Homo sapiens: one gene and its partners. The protein of the gene in region 3 purifies or fractionates together with the protein of the main gene of each other region. This does not show direct contact. Each region holds a gene or a part of one and is shown on either strand. Other genes may lie near its edges.

Region 1 (3,661 bases), on a different chromosome or scaffold from region 3:
GGTAGGGGATGTTGATAATGGAGGATGCTATGCATTTGAAGGGGCAAGGGTACATGGAAAAATCTATGTATTTTCCTCTTAATTTTGCTGTGAACCTAAAACTGCTCTTTAAAAAGGCAGGAGAAAAATATTTAAGAAGTACACCAATAATCTTTAAAACAGGAGAAAGGCCTACATCTTCAATATGTACCCAATTCACATTTCACATTTAAATTGAATCAGAATGTCTTTGTAGGACTTAAATACATGAAAAAGAGTCTGAGAAATGCACCACCACTTGAAAATCAAAAGTATCTTTAGGGCTACATTAAGAAATCTTATAAAATTTTGTTTTATAATAAATGCCTGGCCAGGAGCGGTGGCTCACGCCTGTAATCCCAGCACTTTGGGAGGCCGAGGTGGGTGGATCATGAGGTCAGGAGATCGAGAGCATCCTGGCTAACACAGTGAAACCCCGTCTCTACTAAAAATACAAAAAATTAGCCGGGCGTGGTGGCGGGCGCCTGTAGTCCCAGCTACTCAGGAGGCTGAAGCAGGAGAATGGCGTGAACCCGGAAGGCGGAGTTGCAGTGAGCAGAGATCGCGCCACTGCACTCCAACCTGGGCGACAGAGCCAGATACTGTCTCAAGAAAAAAATTAAAAATAAAATGCCTTTAAATGTGATGTTATGATTAAACGGCCTTAAAGCACTCAGCTTGAGATTCTCTGAAAATGGTCAACTGGGCAATTCATCTTAAAAATCTGGTAGGTTATAAACCATTTTAAAAATATTAAAATACGTAACTCACTATACAAATGAGCTGCTTATGTTCACATTTTCAAGTTTCCAAGATGTCTAATTTTTTTTAATTGGCATTTTAAGCAGCCCAGAGAATAACAATAATCACACATATTCTTCATGTGAAAAATGATTTTATGCTTAACTATAACAAAACTAAACATGGTTAATTAATTAGCAATGAAATATTACGAAAAGCCCTTAAAAATGAATATACTGAAATAAATTTGTTTTCCTACATTGTATAATTAATTAAATACATAAGAACTCTATATTAGATCAATTGATTGAACTATGTGTAAGAAATTTTTCATATATTTAAGCACTAGTCATCTCTAAATGTTTTCATATCTCATACTGTTAATGCTTTAACTCAGTAACAATAATGATTTTATTTTTTCTATTTCCATTACTCCTTGAGATATTTTTGAAGCAAAGGAACATAAAATATATAAAGCCTTTCTAATGTGGGCATTTGAATTATCCATAAAGATCAAAATCTAATTCAAAAATAAAGACCATAAGAAGAAAACACCAATACTTGTAAGGTAAATGAAGATGAATAAAGGTAAATTATTAATAAATATTTAGGCCTACTGAGTAATGGTAGCTAAATTGCAGTCATTTTGAAATTACTCTTTCTCTTTGAGAAAAAAAGAGATACATACATTATGCATACATTATGAAATAAATGAAATACATTTATGTAAACAATTGTATCATATTTGATGGCAAGGAATGCCAAGTATATATACACCCAATATGTGAAGTATTATTAAGCACATAAGCTGAGGAGAGAGTAATAAGGAGAATGTATTCTACACCTTCCCAGAACAAAATCAAATTCAAATGATCATTTCATCTTATTAGGTAAGATAATGACTTTGGAAATAAATATCAAAATCTATAGAAAAACCTATATAACAAACATCAACAGGTAGTTATTAGGTTAACGTTGCCCTTCTCCAAAAGAGATCTAATATTTAATTACCATTCTATTCCTCTAAAGTACCATCAAATATTTAAGTCTTATTAAAAACTTTTAACATTTCAAAAAACTGCCAGTAACATTTTCCAGGTAATGTAAATGTTATCCTACAATCTAACTGTGATTTTAAAAAACATAAGAAACTGGTAAGAGTATTAATTACTTGCACTTACAAAATAATCATATTCTGATTTATGAAATCACCTTAGTAAAAATTTAGACTTAAAGCCGGGCGCGGTGGCTCACGCCTGTAATCCCAGCACTTTGGGAGGGGGAGGCAGGCAGATCACAAGGTCAGGAGCTCGTGACTAGCCTGGCCAACATAGTGAAACCCCATCTCTACTAAAAATACAAAAAATTAGCTAGGCGTGGTGGCGGGCACCTGTAATCCCAGCTACTCAGGAGGCTGAGGCAGAAGAATCGCTTGAACTCGTGAGGTGGAGGTTGCAGTGAGCCGAGATCTCACCACTGCACTCCAGCCCGGGTGACAGTGTGAGACTCCACCTCAAAAAAAAAATAAAAGAATTTAGACGTAACAAATTTGTATTAACCACGTATATCCTTACTTCATTTGAAACAAATCTGTGTTTGTATTACTCGAGAAATTCTTAAATATATTTAAAAATAAAATCATCAAAATTGTCCTATTTTATTAAACATTTTTTAAAAACTTCAACAGTGAGATATGACAAAATTCACAAATATAATACTTACATATTTTGTTAATTTTTTAAAAATAAAATATTCATTATTGAACTATATCAATGTTTCACAATTAACATGGGTCAGAATATATATTTTCACATCATAAAAATATGATTATTTAAATTACAAATTAACATTAGAAAATCAAATGAAGACTGTCATTTTAAACCATCAATGGTTACATACCATCCTCAAATAGCAGAATCTCACAGCATTTATCAACATGTCTAAAGAGAGACTAAAGAGAGACAAAGTACAGCACCTAGGCATGTGTTTCTTTTTGAGGATTTGGTGACATCACAGGAACTACAAGAAAGTTTGATGGTATTACTGCCAATAAATTTTAAGTAGAGTTATGTAACTATAAATATACATAACTACAAATACACAGCTCAATTTTAAAACACACACATATATATATTCTCTTTATTTTGAAGCAACTGAATATGTTTTGATATGCTGTTACATGCAATCAATATTTTTAAGAGAAAAAGTATCCTAGGTTCCTCAGCATAAATTTTTATGTATTTATTAAGGACACAAATAATTTGTTTTTTATTTCTCCAAATATACATTATTAAAAATGTTTCAGAATACTTCAAAAAAAAAATCCAGTGACACATGTACTTCCAAACACTTCAAAAAAAACTATGTCATATATTTTAAAAATTTTGAGTAGACATAGGTCCAGTTGAACATTTAAAATTCCTAATCACCTATGATACATATCCTTTCACAACAAAATAGTACATAGACATAAAACCTGGTATGTTTTCAAAAATGCTTATAAAACTAAAAAGGCCTCTAAAATAATAATAAAAATGTTTTTTAAAATTCTATGAAATCGTCTTGAATTGCAACCTTATTCCATAAGTGATGCACACATAATACCTGTATCATTTACAACCATCTGTTACTTGTAGTTGCTTAGCTAACATCAGTAGGATTCCTGCCTTCTTCAAAACAATTATTCATACAATTTATATACAATTTATGTATATTACAATATAAGAAACCTCTTTAACTAGGCATCATTTAATACTGTCCTTTTAATATATACATGAACTGTATGTATATACTACTGTATGTAACTGAATATTAAGTCAACTATTTAAAAATCAATGTTTATAGTATAGAAACAGCTATATATTTAAAAAACTTCAGCAGCTACATGTTTTAATTCAGTGAA
Region 2 (2,855 bases), on a different chromosome or scaffold from region 3:
TGATAATATATACTGTAATCCTGAAACATTTGTGTTACTTACCTTTGGAGGTAGAAATTATACCAATAAATTATTGCACCGTTAGTATTAGATTCTGTGTACCTTGGAAGTTATGTCATTAATATAGGCTGGTTCATCAAATAAAGCAAAACCTTGCAATATCAGCTAGATTTACACTCCGGGACGTTGCCCAAAGGTAGGAAGAAAGCAGAGGGAAATATTTCAGTCATCATTTCCAAAGTCATTATCAAAATCTGTGAGGAAGTTTAATCTTCCAAAGAGTCAATGTCAGACATCAGGCCTCTGTTGCCTGCTTCTCTCGAGGCACTAGATTAGGAGTCTTCAATAAGAGACTTAACATGAGGTATATGGAAGATGAGGCACCGAGATAAGTTCATCATTAGGTGTGAGCACTGCTCACCCTTGCTGGCAAGTTCTCCTTAAGGGCCTGAAGCACAGGTGTCCAAAGAAAAGCGTTAAGTCCATCTTAATAGAATCTATGTGGTATATGATGTGGTCAGCCCCTGGTCTGTGATCAGCAAGAACCTACAGCACAGATTATGCCCTGCCCACTTCAATGAATACCTACTCTCCTCCATTCTCCATCACTTTTTTTGCTATCAAGAACTCCGGACCTTGCCCATGGAGAAGTTTAGAGAGGAACTCTTGTGGAGAGCTGGTTTATTTTCTGCCCTGTGCGACGAGTTTCAGCTGGCCAAGAAAGGAGTCAAGTTATTAAAAAGCATCACAATGTAGATCTCCAGGCTGGTTTTTTGTTTTTTGTTGTTAAGACTGGGGAAAGGGGGACTATTTATTCTGCCTTAAATCAATGGCAAATAAGTCAAGATGACATTTTGTGAATGTAGACTATGGATACACTCCTAATAGATTGATGTAGTCATAAAAGGGGGTCAAGTAGATGTTTTTCTGTTATGTAAGCAATAATTTTTCCGTGTCTTATTGAGTATGGCTAGCGATTATTTATTACATGCTAGATGGGTTCTTTGCATGTGGGTTCCATATAGGTGCAGAAATTTCCTCAGCCACTGGAGGGATTTCGACCATATTTGTCATTTGGATGAGCTGTTATTAGATTGAAATCTACACATCATTTCATTAAAAATTGTGCCTTAGAAAACGCAAAGCTGTTGCACATGGCGATAAATTATGGATGCAGTACATTGAAGAGAGATGAAGTCACTTCCAAGTTTCCAAGACTTCTCATGGAGGTGTTTGCTGTTTTACAGGAAAAAATAAAAATAAAAAAAGAAAAAAAGAAAAAATTAAAAAGAAAAATTGTTTTGAAAATGTACAGATCAAGTCCAATATTTTGATTATCCACCTGCATGTTTTATTAAATATTTTGATAATGTGGATGTTTACACTTTGCATGATATTAGCAGAGTACCACTAGTAATGCACAAACATGTACAATATGGTCATTCATAACCGATTTTTATAGAATACTTTTTACATGTGCAACTCCATCCGTTATGTAAGGATTACATGAATATTGCACATTCCCTTCTGGTTTCACAAACCCATTTATACATATTTCTTAGTGAGGCTCATTGTACATGTATTGAAGCTAGAATCGAGTCAAGAAAAATAAAGCCCCATTCTCCAACTGCAAAATGTGCTTTCCCATAATGAACACTAGTCACCAGCACAGAATAATCTCCAACATTTTCTAAATTCTAATTGCCAACTGTTTCTATTTATATTTGATTTATATTTCATTTGGAGTCTGTTACATGGCAGCTTAGGCAGACTAGATCTTGTTTTTTCCAATGCAGCATAATGAGTATGATCTATTTCTTTTCAAATAATCTTTGAGATCCCAGGAAAAAAAAAATGCTCTGCTCCATTGAGCTATAATGTAAATGTGTTTGTTTAAAAAACAGGTGAGGCAAGTGAGTGATTTATTGTTCCTGAGGAAGTATATCTGATTTTTTTTCTCATACTCCAAAAGCTAGTCCCTACTCTTTAATAAAAATAATGGGTAACTTTTTGTTTTTCACTAGCGAACTTCCATGACATTTCCTTTCTATGTAGTGTGATTAATGCAATACATATTATAGTTATCTATACACAGTGTAAGATTTAACAAACTGAAATGATCCACCTCATATGTGAGTCCGTCCAAAAGATGTTACTGCTCTGGGTGGGCCAGTGTTCTATATCGGTTATACTAACTTTCATTTAAAGTATTTATTCTAAAATGCCTCTGAGAAACAGTAAAAAATAAAAACAACAAGTTGTCTAAAATGCAACAGCTTTTATAGTAAATGTACATTTATAAATAAAATACTCAAATCAACTTTGTATTCCATTAATTATTTTTGGAGGGGTGGCAGTTGGTTTTCTTACATGGGGAAGAGAGACTCAAGCTTTCTCTTGTAGCTTTTGGTCCAGGGTTACATAGACAGATGATGGCAGTGCTGGATGTTTGCATGTACCTATTGATGCATAGTTGAGGTCAACTATTGAAGGCAAACCAAACTTACTGGCTGGTTTAGGGGTCACTGAGGAATTGCCTTCTATAGAAGGGTTTAAGCTCCTGGAGATGAGACACACAATAACCAGCAGAGGCCATGCAAATGCCAGTGAAACTCGTCTGAAACAACCAAATGATGGTCAGCTTGCAGCACTGGCTAGACAAAAAGCAAGGCAAACTTTTTTTTTCTTTTTCTTTTTTTTTTTTTGAGACAGGGTCTCACTCTGTTGCCCAGAATGGAGTGCAGTGGTGCAATCTCAGCTCACTGCAGCCTCGACCTCCTGGGCTCAGGTGATTCTCCCACTTCAGCTTCCCAAGTAGCTGGGATTACAGGCATGTGCCACCACACCCAGCTAGT
Region 3 (3,661 bases):
TTTTTCCTGGCCAAAACGAGTCCAGTGTCAGGATTCGAAATAGAAAAGGATTAGTCAAGGCTTGTGGGGAGAAGGCCTTGTCCCTGAAACAAAGTCACAAATAAGCCTTCAGTACGGGCTTTTGACAATGCCTGGGTGCTCTAGGGAAGCCATTAAAGAGGGAAAAAACCATTTTTTTTTCAGTGAAAAGTCTAGTACTTTGGTATAGTTAAACATTTCAGAGGATGGCGTGTCTGAGCCCCCAACCTAGGCGGCTGGTCACTGTAGTCACACTGACAACTTTGGCCAGAGCCGCTTGGGCACATAAGAATCCATACGGCCAAGAGGAGAAACTGCAAAAATGAGGGTTTGGGGAAGTGGGGAAGGGGGAGCTGGGATGGAATCCCAGAGGGGGACTGTACCCTTGTATGTGAAGTGTGGGTAGTGGGTGAGGGCCGTGAGAACTTCGATAGCACAGGGCCCATGTGACAGCTGGAAGGGTGAGAACATGAGAGGGAAGTGGAGAAGGGGCCTGGCCGCTGTGCTGGGCGTCTCCCTTCACCGGACCCTACTGGACTCCTGGAGTACTGGCTGCCCATGCAGCAAAGGTGAGGAGGCCTGGGGCCTTTACTATTTTTTTTTTTCCCCGAGACAAGTCTCACTGTGTTGCTCTTGCTGGAGTGCAGTGATAGGATCATAGCTCACTGTAGCCTTGGCCACCTGGGCTCAAGCCATCCATCCTCCCACCTTGGCCTCCCGAGTAGCTGGGATTACAGGTGTGCGCCACCACACCTGGCTTTTTTTTTTTTTTTTCGTAGTGACAGGGTCTTGATATGTTTCCCAGGCAGGTCTCAAGCTCCTGGCCTCGAGTGATCCTCCCACCTCGGCCTCCCAAAGTGTGGGGATTACAGGTGTGACCCACCACCCCGGCCCCCTTACTATCTTATTCTCACATCGAAATCCTACAAAAAGACTTCACCATCCTAGGTTTATCTGGTCCCAAGTTTTCTCTAGTCTAGGCCTTGCTGCTGTAGCTCTTTGTGGGGAGGGAGGGGTGCCCAAGGAGCCACTGGAGTTTTAGGTCTGAGGTGCAACTCCCTCTCCCTACATGTCCCTTAGGGACAGCCACCAGTGCTGACGGCTGCCTAGCCCCGCCATGCCAAAGGGTCTATCTCACTCTGTATATGAAGACTGTGCCTGAGGGTCCAGTAGGCACACCTGCAGCCTGCCTCAGGCCTCCTCCAAAAGGATATGTGGCAAATACGATTCCTACAACAATCGCAAGCCCAAACACACACACACATATACACATTCATTATTTCTTTATGGGCTCTCTTTCTCCCTTCCTCTCTCCAGTTCCCTGAGCTAAAAGGCAAGAGTTCAACACAAGATTTTTAAAAGACCTGACAATGCCCAGGGCTAAGCAGCAGGGCTCATGTGTTACCCTCTGAGGCTTGGCCACCCGGGGCTGCTTCCCCAGCCAGAAGTCGTTGCAGGCGTTCACTGCACATCAGAACACTCAGTCTGGGCAAATCTTTGGACACCAAAGTAATGTTCAAGCTGTGTTTGGGTTTGAGGCTGTCATAGCCTAGTTCTGCCCAACCTATTATTAATAACTGTCCACCACTCAAAAACAAGTTGTTGGAGGCTAAAATGATCACATCACAGAAACTCTGAGAACCATTTCTAAGCAATAAAAAAAAAATGGTTTTGTAAAACCTGTCACTACTCACCTCATGAATTAGACACTTGTCTATGAGCTGTAAATAGGAACTTATATTTTCCTCATCAGGTCTGGAGACCAAGAGCTGTGTGCACACTGTAATTAAAAAGAAAAGATGAATTAGAAAAATGCACCCCTTTCTAATCTCTGGGACCTGACTCTCATTTCCCTTCAGGTCCAACACTCTGAGAGGTATGTGTGTCTGTGGCTTTATGTAAGGCTCACAAAAAAGGCCAAGAGGCTCCTCATTCCACAGAAGTCAAAGGCTGGGTCACCGTGGGAGCCCTTGTCTCGAGAAGCCCCTTGGGTTAATTCCAGTCATGCCATTCTATATGAAGCCTTCTGCAATAAGACACTGCAATAAGAGGAAGAACACAGCAGTGAATAGTGGCGTCCTGAGCTTGGTCTTTGAAAGTGGCTCTGTGTGAGGGGCTTCAGAAGTATCCAAGACCCTGACACTGTCAGAGAGCAGCCTCCGTGATTTTATGAATGAGCGCACACCCCTCGCCAGGTGCAGAGACAGCGGCGTTTGTGTTTGGAGGAACGAGCTGGCACCTCCTGGAGACGGGGAGGTGTGTGGGTGTGCACATGTGCAGGAGGCCTGCTACTCACTCCTCAGAGGGTTGCTTTCTCAGAGTGATATGCACATTTATGCACACACAGGCGCAGGCTCACCTACACACTCAAGTCAGTGCTAAATAGGATGGAACAGAGTTAGTCTGCGGGTAGAGTATACACACGCACTAGGTTTCTCACGGCCATGTTACTGTGGCCCATTCTGGTCTCATTGTAGAGGTGACGATTCCCCGACTTTCTTAGTCATGTGTACAGGGCCACAGTGGAGATGGGTGGACAAAAGGAGTCAGCCAGAGAGTAAAAATGTCTGACACTCAAGGAGACCAAGCTTGAAACCTGGCATCATACTTGATTCCTCCCTGTCCCTAACCCTGCATGGCTGATTGGTCACACAATCCCATTTATTTCTTGCCTTTGCACATACACTTTCAGTATAACATTGTTTGTCATAACAAAACCTTGTAAACTACCTCACTGCCTATTAATTGGGACTTTGTTAAATACATTACGGTTTATGCATACAGTGGAATAGTATGCCATCTTTAAAAAAAACTTTGAGATGGCGCTATTTGTACTGATAGAAATATTGTAAGTATATATACTTTTTAAATTTTATTATTTTGTTTTTGAGAGACAGGGTCTCACTATGTTGCCGAGGCTGGTCTTGAACTCCTGGGCTCAAGTGATTCACTTTGGCCTCCCAAAGTGCCGGGATTACAGGCATGAGCCACCGTGTCCGGCTATAGTATTTTTTTTTAAACCCACCAGCCTGTAGAAAAGAATGTAAATAAGGCCTGCGTGTGTATAAAAGTGAATATTCGGCTGGGCGCGGTGGCTCATGCCTGTAATCTCAGCACTTTGGGAGGCTGAGGCGGGCAGATCACGAGGTCAGGAGATCGAGACCATCCTAGCTAACACGGTGAAACCCCGTCTCTACTAAAAAATACAAAAAATTAGCCAGGCGTGGTGGCGGGCGCCTGTAGTCCCAATTACTCGGGAGGCTGAGGCAGGAGAATGGCATGAACCTGGGAGGTGGAGCTTGCAGTAAGCCTAGATCGCGCCACTGCACTCCAGCCTGCGTGACAGAGCGAGACTCCATCTCAAAAAAAAAAAAAAGTGAATATTCATGTGCTTATGTATGATGATGAAGTTTCTGAAAGGATATCCCAAAACTTAATAGTGACTATCCCTGGGAATGAGGATGGCAGGGTTTGGGGTTGGGGGAGGGTGGTTTTCCACTTTCCACCATGTTGTTAATTTGAATTGTGTATGCTGAGTGTTAACTGGGGTTACAGCTTCCTTTAACGTAGGTAAAATGTAAAGAAGCAGGGCCATAGCACTGTGGGTCTCTCAGGAAGTAGGGCGATGTGCCGCGTGTTCAGT

What was found.
Region 1: the proteins of SAMD4A (region 3) and LIN28B purify together in Homo sapiens (co-immunoprecipitation; one large-scale study listed by IntAct). This does not show direct contact.
Region 2: the proteins of SAMD4A (region 3) and LIMCH1 purify together in Homo sapiens (affinity purification with mass spectrometry, with the first as the bait; one large-scale study listed by BioGRID). This does not show direct contact.

What each region holds. Positions count from the first base shown.
Region 1 is NC_000006.12:104,960,032-104,963,692, reverse strand, and holds part of LIN28B (protein lin-28 homolog B), read right to left. Parts: intron 1-3,661. UniProt on the Homo sapiens protein: Suppressor of microRNA (miRNA) biogenesis, including that of let-7 and possibly of miR107, miR-143 and miR-200c.
Region 2 is NC_000004.12:41,697,725-41,700,579, forward strand, and holds the end of LIMCH1 (LIM and calponin homology domains-containing protein 1), read left to right. Parts: 3' UTR 1-2,320; downstream 2,321-2,855.
Region 3 is NC_000014.9:54,762,592-54,766,252, reverse strand, and holds part of SAMD4A (protein Smaug homolog 1), read right to left. Parts: intron 1,799-3,661; coding exon 1,713-1,798; intron 1-1,712. UniProt on the Homo sapiens protein: Acts as a translational repressor of SRE-containing messengers.